Homo sapiens: one gene and its partner. The protein of the gene in region 2 purifies or fractionates together with the protein of the main gene of each other region. This does not show direct contact. Each region holds a gene or a part of one and is shown on either strand. Other genes may lie near its edges.

Region 1 (7,040 bases), on a different chromosome or scaffold from region 2:
CCTCCAGTCTCCCCACTCAGCCAAGTCAGTGGGTCAGGCCCAGGCTCCACACCAGTCCCGAGGGCCACCCCCAGCCCTCAACACCGCGGCGGTGGGCGAAGCCAGCGGCCCCACCCCGTTCCCTGGCGCTGCCGTTCCCTGGCGTTTCCTAGCTAGGATCTGTAGGGATCCCGCCTACGGAGTGGCCCTGGGGCGGAGGTAGGGGAGGCCCTGGCGCCTCTCCTCCTGATCACCCCTAGGTGCACACTGGGAACTGTGTGCCCCCCACATCCTGAATGCTTCACGCCTTCCTGCCCGGGTTAGAAAGCCGTTCCTGGTGCACTGGCCAGGACAGCGGACACTCTTCCTCCCTGCAGCCCTTGCCCACCCCCTTGGCCATGAGGAATTCAGGCAGCTGTGTCCCCAAATGTCTCCACCCAATTTTGGACTCTCGGAGTCCCCACGCCCAATGAGATGCCAGTGCAACCCAGGTCAGCATCGAGGGTCGTGGCTGCGGAGGTGGCACCCCCTCCCACCAGCACCTTCCCTTGGGAGTGGACAAGTCCTCGGCCACCTCAGCATCACCAGCTCCCACCCAGGGCCACCCCCACCCCCAGGTCACTGGTGTGCAGCCCGTGACCCAGCTGATCCAGCACCAGTTACAAGGCCTCCTCGTGCCCAGTCCCAACCACGCGGGACCCACCTGCCACCCTGCCCATGCCGGGACCCCACAACTCTCCTCCCACACGCTCCAGGCTCTGATCCCAGGCAGATGCCCTCTTGCAAGGCAGGAGCATGGGCAGGTGTGCGTCCCCTCTGCCTGGCATTCGGACTCCACCAGCAGGGCTGTCCCCCTCCCTGGCCTGGAATCCCAGCCTCCTGGCAGCACTCCACAGCTCGCCACTCACCCATGCCCCAAAGGATGCTGCCTGGCTTGTGCCTGTGGCCCCAGCTCTGCCTTAGCCTCCCTGGCCTGCTCCCTGGCAGCCATGGTCAGTAGTGTGCTGAGCCAGCCCAGCCCTGTCACCTGCTACCAGGCAGGAGCCCCCAGCTGCCACCTGGATGTCACCACTCAAACGAACAGGACACATCCCCAGTGGAGGCCCTGGGCATGCTCTGGCCTCCCCCTCACAGCTCTGGGCCTAGGTTCCTGCAGGACAAAGTGGCAGCAGGACAGATGGCCGAGCAGACAGAGCTCAGAGCTGGCCATGGCGGGTGTGACTCTGCCAGTGGCCCAGGCAGTAGAGACAGGAGGGGCCGAGGAAGTCGCATGAAGTGGTTGGTGTCAGCGCCCCACACTGCTGGGAGGCCCCTGGAGCCAGGGTGGTGCCAGGGGACCAGCTCCCAGGCCCACAGCAGGGACTGCCTGCAATATCACCAAGGCAACGAGGACCCCACCTCCCCAGGGCCTCTGACTTCTCAGAGCTATGCCTGGTCCCTGCGGGAGCAGGTCAGACCAGTGGGCTGGGCAGGGCCAGGACGAGACAGCCCCAGTGGATGGCGAGCAGGAAAGGTCACCAGAGGCCCACCCGGGTCTCCTCATCCAAAGCAGCACTGGCCCGGGCGGTGCTCAAACACCAGTGAAGGCCCCAGGCAAGCGCAGGGCTGGGGACCTGGATGACTAGGAGGGCTGGATCTGGAATGGAGGCTGGCCCAGACCTTGGATGTGTGCTGGGGGTCTGCACCTGACCCTGCAGGCCCTGCCCCAGGATGGCCAAGCTCCGCAGCCACAGGGCCTCATGGGCCAGGCCTCGGGACCTGGATGCAGCAGCCTCGCCTCACTTGGCCCCAAGTGCTGCCTCGGCCGATGGGGCCCCAGCCACACGTGCACAGACCCCCAGACACCACCCACTCCCTCCCGCCGGGTGGCATCCACGCCCCTGTGACAAGCTCAGCCCCTTCCCGTCCTCAGGCCAGGGGTTCCCAGGGAGCCTGGCTCCACAGGCCAGGGTGTGGAAGGACCGCCTGGCCACACCTCAGCCATGTGGAGGCTGCACCTGCACACCCAAGCTCGCCTGTCCGGCTCTCTGGCCCTGTGCATCCACTGTGGCTCCCCTCCTGCAGAGCCGCCCACCTTCCTCCCAGGGAAGCCCGCCCCCCGGCCCCCGGCCTGGTCCCCTCTTGGGTGTGCCCAGGCTGAGCTGCCCCCAGGGTTGCCCTCACCTGGTGCGCAGGGCCTGCCAGGCGGCGTCGATGTCGGCATAGAGGTTCCTCTCGGAAGGCCTACCCGAGCTGGCACCGTAGCCGGAGTAGTCGTAGGAGAAGATGTTGCAATGGAGGCGGGAGCCCAGGCCAATGTAGAAGCTGCTCATCTGGCCCAGGTCCACGGCATTGCTGTGCGAGAAGAGGACCGTGTACCTGGCACCAGTCACGCAGCGAACATACATGCAGGAGACGCGGTTGCGGCGGGCGCTCTTGGTGGGGAAGACCTCAATGGTGTCCAGCTCGCGCTGGCTGTACTGGAAGTCGGCGCGCTCCGTCAGGTGCAGCTTCCAGCGCCCGGGTGCGCCCGAGGAGGCCCGCAGGGTCCCCAAGGGGGCGGCCCCGGCCCCACCAGGCCCCGGCTCGGGCTCAGTCACCAAGGAATAGGTGGCCTCCGGCGGCAGGAAGGCGAGCTTGGCAGCGATGCGGCCGGGGCAGGGCGGGCAGCAGAAGAGGCAGCAGAGCTCACTCAGCGACAGCCCGTTCATGGCGGGCGCCGCCCGGGCCAGGCCCCCACCGGGGCCCCAGCCAACAACGCCGCCCGGCCTGGCCCGGCAGGGGAGGGGTGGGGGTGCTCCGAGTCGCGGGCAGGGGGGAGGGCGCCCCCCCAGCTACGGCCCCAGACGGCAGCCCCGTTAGGAGGCCAGGGCCCAGCCCCATCGCGGTCCAAGCCGAGCCCCAGGGAGCCTCGCAACCACAGGTCTCCATGTCACGCCGTGGGAAGCCCACCCCGGCCCGCGCCCCTGGGCCCCAGGGCCGCACTCCATGGCGCCTGGCCGCCTGCCCGTGCGTCCGTCGGTCCCTCCGCGCCCCGGCCGGCCTCCTGCATCGCCACCGCCGCAGCTCCCCCCGAAGAATCCGCTTTGAATCTCTAAGGTTGTACTGTATATGTCTTTCCTGGTCAGTGTCTGTCTGGAGCATGACTTTACCACCTTTTGCAGTGATTCTAGTACTAATACGGCATTCACTCTTCATTCATGCATGCATTCATTATTAAAAAATGATAACTGCTTGGAAGGAGATGGGCTACCTGTGCTGTGAGTAACTATGATGGGAAACTATGGCCGGGTCAGGGATCTCAGAAAAGTTTCCCAGAGGAAGAGGGACAAAGTGTGAGTGGTAATTAACCATGTGAAGAGGGAAAGAGGAGCATATGCAGAATATCTTGTCATGCATTTTCTTTGTTTATAGGACCTATTTCACCTGAAAACCTTATGGCAAAATATTATTTTTTTCTTAGCTTTTATTTTTGGTTCAGGGGTACACATGCAGGTTTGTTTTACAGGTAGACTCATGTCATGGGGGATTGTTGTACAGATTATTTTGTTGCCCAGGTACTAAGCCTAATACTCAATAGTTATTTTTTCTTCTGCTCTTCCTCCTCCAACTCTCCACCCTCAAGGAGGCCTCAGTGTCTGTTGTTCCCTTCTTTGTGTTCATTTGGTTTTCTGTTCTTGCATTAGTTTGCTAAGGATAATGGCCTCTAATTCCATCCATGTTCCTGCAAAAAACCATGATCTCATTCTTTTTTATGGCTGCATAGTATTCCATGGTATATGTGTACTACATTTTGTTTATCCAATCTGTCACTGATGGGCATTTAGATTGATTGCATGTCTTTGCTATTGTGAACAGTGCTGCAATGAACATTTGTGTGTGCATGTGCCTTTTTTTTTTTTTTTTTTGGTAGATAAGGGATTTTGCCATGTTGCCCAGGCTGGTCTCGAACTCCTGAGCTCAAGTTATCCACCTGCCTTGGCCTCCCAAAGTGTTGGGATTACAGGCATGAGCCACTGTGCCTGGCCATGCATGTGTCTTTATGGCTGAATGATTTATATTCCTCTGGGTATATACCCAGGAATGAGATTGCTGGGTTGAATGGTAGTTCTGTTTTTAGCTCTTTGAGGAATTGCCATACTGCTTTCCACAATGGTTGAACTAATTTGCACTCCCACCAAAAGTGTATAAGTGTTCCCTTCTCAACTTGGCCAGCATCTGTTATTTTTTAACTTTTTAATCATAGCCATTCTGACTGGTGTGAGATGGTATTTCATTGTGGTTTTAATTTGCATTTCTCTAATGATAGTGATATTGAGCTTTTTTTCATATGCTTGTTAGCCACATGTATTTTTTTTTTTTTTTTAGAAAAGTGTTCATGTCCTTTGCCTACTTTTTAATGGGGTTGTTGTTTTTCTCTTGTAAATTTAAGTTCCTTATAGATGCTGGATATTAGACCTTTATCAGATGCATAGTTTGTAAATATTTTCTCCCATTCTTTAGGTTGTCTTTTTACTCTGTTGAGTTTCTTTTGCTGTGCAGAAGCTCTTCAGTTTAATTAGATCTCATTTGTCAATTTTTGCTTTTGTTGTGATTGCTCTTAGTGTCTTTGTCATGAAATATTTGCCCATTCCTGTGTCCGGGATGGTATTGCCTAGGTTGTCTTCTGTGGTTTTTATAGTTTGGGGTTTTACATTTAAGTCTTTAATCCATCTTGAATTAATTTTTGTATATGGTGTAAGGAGGGGGTCCAGTTTCATTCTTCTGCATATGGCTAGCCAGCTATCTCATCATTTATTGAATAGGGAATCCTTTCCCCATTGTTTGTTTTTGTCAGCTTTGTCAAAGATCAGATGGTTGTAGGTGTGCGGCTTATTTCTGGGCTCTCTATTATGTTCCATTGGTCTATGTGTCTGATTTTGTACTAGTACCATGCTGTTTTGGTTACTGTAGCCCTGTAGTATAGTTTGAAGTAGGGTAACATGTTGCTGTCAGCTTTGTTCTTTTTGCTTAGGCTTGTCTTGGCTATTTGGGCTTATTTTTGGTTCCATATCAATTTTAAAATAGTTTTTTCTAGTTCTGTGAACAATGTCTTTGGTAGTTTGATAGGAATAGCATTGAATATGCAAATTGCTTTGGGCAGTATGGCCATTTCAATGATACTGATTCTTCATATTCATGAGCATGGGATGTTTTTCCATTTGTGTCACTCTGATTTCTTTGAGCAGTGTTTTCTAATTCTTTTTTTTTTTGAGATGGAGTTTCGCTCTTTGTTGCCCAGGATGGAGTGCAGTGGTGCGATCTCAGCTCACTGCAACCTCTGCCTCCCAAGTTCAAGTGATTCTCCTGTCTCAGCCTCCTGAGTAGCTGGGATTACAGGCGTCTGCCACCACACCCAGCTAATCTTTGTATTTTTAGTAGAGATGGGGTTTCACCATGTTGGCCAGGCTGGTCTTGAACTCCTGACCTCAGGTGATCTGCCCGCCTCAGCCTCCCAAAGTGCTGGGATTACAGGCGTGAGCCACTGAGCCCAGCCTTCTAATTCTTATTGTACAGATCTTTCACCTCCCTGGTTAGCTGTATTTCTAGGTGATTTATTCATATTGTGGCAATCGTGAATGAGATTGCATTTTTGATTTGGATCTTGGCTTGGCTGTTGTCAGTGTATAGGAATGCTAGTGATTTTTGTATATTGATTTTCGTATCCTGAGAGTTGGCTGAAGTTGTTTATCAACTGAAGGAGCTTTTGGGCCAAGACTATGGGGTTTTCTAGATGTAGGATCATGTTGTCTGCAAACAGGGGTAGTTTGACTTCCTCTCTTCCTATTTGGATGCCTTTTATTTCTTCCTCTTGCCTGGTTGCTCTGGCCAGGACTTCCAATAGTATGTTGAATAGGAGTAGTGGAAGAGGGCCTCCTTGCCAGTTTTCAAGGGGGGAATGCTTTCAGCTTTTGCCCATTCAGTATGATGTTGGCTGTGGGTTTGTCATAGATGGCTCTTATTATTTTGAGGTATGTTCCTTCAATACCTAATTTATTGAGAGTTTTTAACGTGAAGGGATGTTGAATTTTTAATGAAAGCTTTTCTGCATGAGATAATCATGTCATTTTTGTCTTTAGTTATGCTTATGTGATGAATCATATTTATTGATTTGCGTATGTTGAACCAACCGTAAATCCTGGCGATGAAGCCTACTTGATTATGGTGGATTAGCTTTTTGATGTGTTGCTGGACTTGGTTTGCAAGTATATTTTTGAGGAATTTTGCATCGTTGATCAAGGATATTGGCTTGAAGTTTTCTTTTTTTGTTGGGTCTCTGCCAGGTTTTGGTATCAGGATGATGCTGGCCTCATAGAATGAGTTGAGGAGGCGTCCCTCCTCCTTAATTTTTTTGGAAACCAGGGGTACAGACAAAGTACCCTGTACACCCAACAGTAATCCCACAGGAGAAGGCAGAGGCCCCAGGCCATTTAATCAGCAGCAAGGTGATTATGTGATATGTCTTTTCACAGTTGAGTTAGATGTACTCCACCAGTTATGATGGGAATCAATTTAAATATACTTTCTTGATCCCAGAAATTCAAGTATGTGGACAGGATGTTACACATGGCAGGATGATTGTTACAGCGCAACTAACATATTTCAAATGGACAAAAAATTAGTATAATTTACAGTATCTTAAGATAAATTTCCTTTGAATGGGAGCTTCCTTTCTAGTCCTTTGAGGTCTACAAGGCATATCTAGAAAATTTACTACTGTGGAAGATGAAGACTGTTTAAATTGAATGGGGGGCAGGAAGGGGAAGGGCCTATGGTTTTTCTTTTTGATTAACTGCTGTAACCCTGTCCTTCAGGCAGCTGAAGGAGTGTCACATTTTCTTTAGACATCATTAGGCACCAAAGCTCTTGTAGGACAACTTTGATGCTACATGAATTCTGCCATTTTGCTAGCACTGATATGGCTTTTTGGTCCACCACTCCATTACAACTATTAACCCTATTTATATTAATTTTTGTTACAAATCTTACAAAGGCAGGGTGCTTCTGGGCATTTAGGATACATTCTATTTTAAGGCTGTATA
Region 2 (5,831 bases):
CCTTCTTGGGCCTGTGTCCGCCGTTCTCTCCTTGTGCCCTTCAGTTCACTTTTACACGGTAGCCTTGAAGTGAAGGCTTTAGATGTGGGACCCCCCTAATGTAATGGATTTCTCAATACTGTATGAATAATGAAACTTACTATCATAAACCATGTTTCATGTGGCCTGTTAGGGCCTGTCACTTTGGGAGCCGGAAGGAGGTGCTAGTCATTTTATTTTTACGTGAAATAGATGACCTATTTAATGCCATTTGTGTTTCATGCCATTTTATCCAAAGCTTTTTCTCTGTGTCCACTCTCCAAACAGCATTCTAGAGCAGTCAAGGAGACAGCTAATCTCTCTAGGGACTATTTGGTGGTTTAAAAAAAGGGTCAGACTTTTAAACACTCTGACCATAGAAATGTTTTTCAAAATGGCAACAATGGATAAACCAAGGATTTTGTGTTTAACAATCCATTTCCAGTGTCTTCGCCACATAAAATAGCCATTTTCTTTAAAATAGTTTTGGACTAACGAAGCTGAAATCTATTCTCATTCTTGTTTGTCAAGAAAGGAAAATCTGTTATTCAAGGTAAATTATTTCTACAAGGGCAACAGGTATGGTCCTCCGATATTTACATTAAGAAGAGTTAAATTTATTTTAACGTAGACACTAAAAGTATGTGCAATATACAATTAAAGTAGGAATTTGTTACTGATTGAGAATTGTTACTGGTGAATTGGTTTTCAGGTTTTGAGCATACATATACAATGTGTTTCAAATGCTGCTTGTAAAATTAAACCATCATCTAGAATAGAGTTAATTTATTATAATCAAGCTACAAATAGGTTTTCTTAAACCAGAGATGCACTGCCCTTGTCTAAAGTTCTTATTGCACTGGTTTATATGTGTATGTGTGTTTTATTGTGTGTTTTTTTAATTTGTAAGTATTCTAAGAGTTTCCTAATACTAAGGTTAAAATTTTCATGTTGACCTGAGCCTTTTGCAAATTTGCTTTGGCTCTATTGATTTGTCCATTATGTGTTAGGCAAATATAACTTAAGTGGAGGGGGAAGTTTATGAATATAATATAGCTCTGTGTTTTAAACCTCAGAAACAGATTTGAGTGTTTCAGTATTATAGAAACAGTGATGACTATTCATGCTCTGCTAGTCTATGCCTGCAACTCCAAATGTTTGTGGTTCAGTATTTCCCACCTACATTTCTGTTTGGTGACATTGCTCATTTTAACAAATATGACCGAGTCTAGTTTTTCTTTAAAAGGATAGTTTATGAGTAATCTTTAAAACCATTTCCATACCATCTGTATATAACCATTTCGGTAGAGAACACACTACACTGAACCCTGCTTTAGAGCTGTGTGTTGAGCTAAAAATATAATTTTTTAAAAATTGACTAGCAAAATCTATGGCCACACTGAGAAGCCTTTGAAAATGGCAAATACTTTTCATCACCAATTGCCCAATTCATCTTTCTTCTGCTTCCTCAGCCTTGTAGCAAAGGCTACACAGCAGCCCACAGTCCACAGTCTTTTTGGGAAAATTGGCCTGCCACCTTCTTTAAGCTCAGTTTATTTTTGACTTACTTTCTTTGCTGTAGTTATGAACCTTGGGGCATTAAAATCCCATGGCAAGGAGCATAAGAGATGTTCTCGTAGCTCTGCGTTGTGTGAAATGTCCATCTTAGTTTTGTTAAAAAAAAAAAAAAAAAAAGGAAACAGCCTCACTTTTTTGTGCTCCCTCAGAATTGCTTGCTATGTCTGTTAATACAGCTGAGCTTTTTGTTTTCTTCTCTTTTTGTCTCAAGATTGTATATGAAGGAGGCTTTTCTTCTCAGCTAACAGGCATATAAGGAAAACCATCTAGAGAGTTTTCTTTAGAAGTGACTCCCATTAGCCTGGTGTGGTGGTGTGTGCCTATAGTCCCAGCCACTAGGAAAGCTGAGGCAGAAGGATCCCTTGAGCCTAGGAGGTTGAGGCTGCAGTGAGCTATGATCGCATCAGTCCACTCCAGCCTGAGCAACAGAGCGAGACCCTGTGTCTAAGTAAAGAAAAAGCCAGAAGTGACTCCCACTGCTTCTGTTGATCGGCCATAGGGCTTCCATGGGTGGAAACTTGTGAGGGAGTTTGTATTAGGTCTGGTCATGGAGGGATGATGTACCATCAAGGTAGACCCATCTTCCTGATGCACATTTGCTGTGCGAGCCAGAGTACAGTCATAACACGGTATTCGCATTTCGTTTTCTCTGTCTCACTGAGACAACAATCTATACTGTTTTGGCAAGTTTGCATTTTAGTATTAATTTATAATTAGGGATTGTTCAAACTTCAGATCTGTTTACAGGTTGTAAAAATAAACTTCGGTATCAGTGCATCTACAGAAGTGTTATTTGGTAATCCAAATATTAGAGTTTTCCCAAATCCAAAAACGGTCAGAAATAAGTCCATTATCAATATAATTTGAAGAAGATTTTTAGTAGTACTGTGAAGTTCGTGCTTACCTGGATGAGAAGAATAAATGACACGGATACACTCCTGAGAAGACACTCGTTAAACATTGCATCGGAGAGCTGCCTTTGATAAATGTGCTGTTAAACACTTGAATGAAGAGAATGGTGGCAGAATGAGTGAGCAAGCAGATTGCCCCAGAGGGGCCGGTAATAATCACGTGAGGGATAATCAGATTCCTGCGTATTCAGCATCTTCTCTATTCATGTGGAGTGAAAGCTGGTTTTTATACAGGAGATACGTAAAGTAGGCCCCACAAATAATATTTTTAAAATACAAAGGATCACCACAATCCTCTATTGAACATATAAGGATCCTCAGATTTAAATAAGTACTTTTTTTTTTTTTAATCAGAAGAACATTGTTGTTTGATTATATGTTTTTAAAAACCTGAAGCTTTTTTGGTGGCAGGACCTTTCAATAAATATTTATTTGGTCAAAATTTTTTATTTTGATTTTATTAAATGGGAAGAAAGCAAGCAGAAATAGTAAAATTCAGTAGGTTTAAAACAATCTATAAATGTATTTTATTTCCAAGAAAACTTAGGGTCTCAAAGCAAGATTTTAAAGTGATTTTTGAGAAGACTTGGGGGGGACAATAATAGACATTCATGTCAGATCCCATATGGGGGATTTTTAAACATTTCTTTGAACTTTGAGGCCTGATTTAGGGGTGGGATTTTATTGCTTTTTGTTTTAAAGGATGAAATTTTGTGGGGTTTTAGTCTTTGATTCAGTCAGTATTTGGTTTATGTTAAATAAAAAATCAGTATCATGGAAAAGATATGACCATAATTTAGTCTCCTCAAGTGAAAAACAGGAGTAATGTTTCGTTGCACTTTGAAAGATCTGCTTCAAGGCATAACTCGTGTAGTTGTCTGGTTTCAGGGATAGCTGTTTGAATTGTCATTCTAAAGTAGGTCATCAGGTTCACTTATTATCCGACCTTAATCTGGGATAAAGGTTTTGGTATTTGCCCACTTCTAGATAGAATGAATGAAAACAACACAAGCGTTTTATGAGCACTCTTTATCAGAAAGGTATTTCCTGGACCAGAAATGGGCAATAGTTACAATAGTTGATCCTCTGTTCTGGAAGCTTTGAAATTTATCAGAGAATGAAGTCATTCAGTACATCTGATAAAGTTTTGTTGTTGTTGTTGTTGTTGTTGTTTTAATTGGGCAACCCTCAGAACTGAAGAGGTTCAGAGAACTTTCCAGGTTTATACTATACCTCAAGACCACATAGATTAGCTACTGCTTATTCTTTCACATGGGCTAGGCCTGTTCTCCTCCTCCAGACCTAGTATTCTAAGTTATTACCACATAGTATTTTTATGTTACCCATCATCTTTAAAAACATTATAGGCTGGGCATGGTGGCTTACGCCTGTAATCCCAGCACTTTGGGAGGCCAAGGCGGGCGGATCATGAGGTCAGGAGATCGAGACCATCCTGGCTAACACGGTGAAAACCCATGTCTACTAAAAATACAAAAAATTAGCCAGGTGTGGTGGCGGGCGCCTGTAGTCCCAGCTACTCAGGAGGCTGAGGCAGGAGAATGGTGTGAACCCGGGAGGCAGAGCTTGCAGTGAGCCGAGATCGCACCACTGCACTCCAGCCTGGGCGAAAGGGCAAGACTCCATCTCAAAAAAAAAAAAAAAAAAAGACTCATTTATCCATTTACATTTATTCTCAGATGATAAAATATATACTGATACTATAACTTTCTTATGGTATCAGTTTTCTTTATTTTCTTGAATAAAATTACTTCTACCTTCATTTGGTCTTTATAATCCACTGTCCACAGCATCTTCCTTTAAACCAATAGTCCCAGAAGAGACCCTCTGAAATTCTAGGACTGGATATTAAAATGCCTGAACCTGTTATCTAAATCCTTTTTAAGAAACTTAATGTTCCAGCTCTTGAACTACACTGTGGAACAGTAATTTGTGCCCAATTTAGTGGAAGATAATGAGGCTCACTGTAAACACTACATTGTCCTGCAAAGTAATTCTGATGAGAGTTTACTGACTTCTAGAGCCATTCTCTTTAACCGTCTGCAGGTCTAAGGATTAACTATATTTGTGATTTGTAATAAAACTGAGTTGTACAACACTGCCTGTGTTTGTCTGGCCAAGACATTTGCTTCACTTTTAAAATGCACGTTATCTTTGGAGAGGTGAATTATTCTACAAAATGCACCCTAAATCTCATTGTTTAAAACCTTACTGATCTAATACCATCTACACAAAAAAATGTTGTAGTTGCAGAACTTAGTTTATAAAAACAAAGAATGTGTATTTCTTCAATAGCCGGGTATTTGGATTGTTCTCTTGATAATATTTGAATGTGACTCTTGGATTTAAGTGCACTATTATTCATGGCTTATACAATAAAATTGCACTGTATGGCAAATATGTCTATAATGTATGCTTTGCTGAAACCTCAAGAGTGCTGTAAGGTACAGGTTTCCATATTGTGAACCTGTGTACGCACACACACATATACATACAGTCTTAGGGAAAAAAAAAAGCAGAACTTTTGTAAGTCTGTGTAACATTTTAATATTGTTTGTAATATTCACTAGGTGATAATTTCCCCTGTACCCTATAACTGTAATCATTCACCTTGGGTTGGCCGGTTTGTCAAGCTTGGTTTACTGAATCAAGAAAGAGTCTTGTCGAATGTGGTACTGTTCTTAGTGTGTAATATTTGCGTATGGTGTTCCTCTGCCTCAGAGGACAGTTGCACAGATGGCTAGTGTTAAATTTCTATAGACGATGGTAATAAAATCTGAATATATTTAAGTGCTAATAAATTAAATCTGTGGGCTTATTTGAATTTTTTTTTCAAATATTGGTGAAGGTTTGGATGGTGTTTCAATTAAATCTATATATTTTTTACCTTACATTTTGAAAAAATTGAGATCTGCAAAAAGGCTGCAAAATAGTACACTGATCTCCCTAGATTGTTCCTATATTGAATGATTGGTAAAATTTTCCATATTTGCTTTAATACCACGTGTGTGTGTGTGTGTGTGTGTGTGTGTTTGTTACACTGTTATTTTGCTGAAACATCCGAGTTAGCTGCAGACATTGTGACCCTGTCTTCTAAATACTTCACAGGAATCTCCCAAGAATTAGGAATATGTATTCTACATATTATTGATTTAGTATGTATTAATATAAACACATGACTCATTGAGGGTAAAAGGAAAGCTCTTTCTTAGAGTAGAATGCCAGCTATTAAATGTAGAAAGAAAATGGAATTAAAAAGCCACTATTTGGCATATTATTACAGTAATCATTGACTTAGGCAATGCC

Evidence for each region. Proteins that work in one complex are often made in the same cells at the same time.
Region 1: the proteins of MTMR9 (region 2) and CENPF purify together in Homo sapiens (co-immunoprecipitation; 2 studies listed by BioGRID and IntAct, with this or other methods). This does not show direct contact.

Annotation. Positions count from the first base shown.
Region 1 is NC_000001.11:214,606,172-214,613,211, forward strand, and holds part of CENPF (centromere protein F), read left to right. Parts: intron 1-2,142; exon of another isoform or gene 2,143-3,032; intron 3,033-3,848; exon of another isoform or gene 3,849-7,040. UniProt on the Homo sapiens protein: Required for kinetochore function and chromosome segregation in mitosis. Required for kinetochore localization of dynein, LIS1, NDE1 and NDEL1.
Region 2 is NC_000008.11:11,322,816-11,328,646, forward strand, and holds the end of MTMR9 (myotubularin-related protein 9), read left to right. Parts: 3' UTR 1-5,331; downstream 5,332-5,831. UniProt on the Homo sapiens protein: Acts as an adapter for myotubularin-related phosphatases. Increases lipid phosphatase MTMR6 catalytic activity, specifically towards phosphatidylinositol 3,5-bisphosphate and MTMR6 binding affinity for phosphorylated phosphatidylinositols.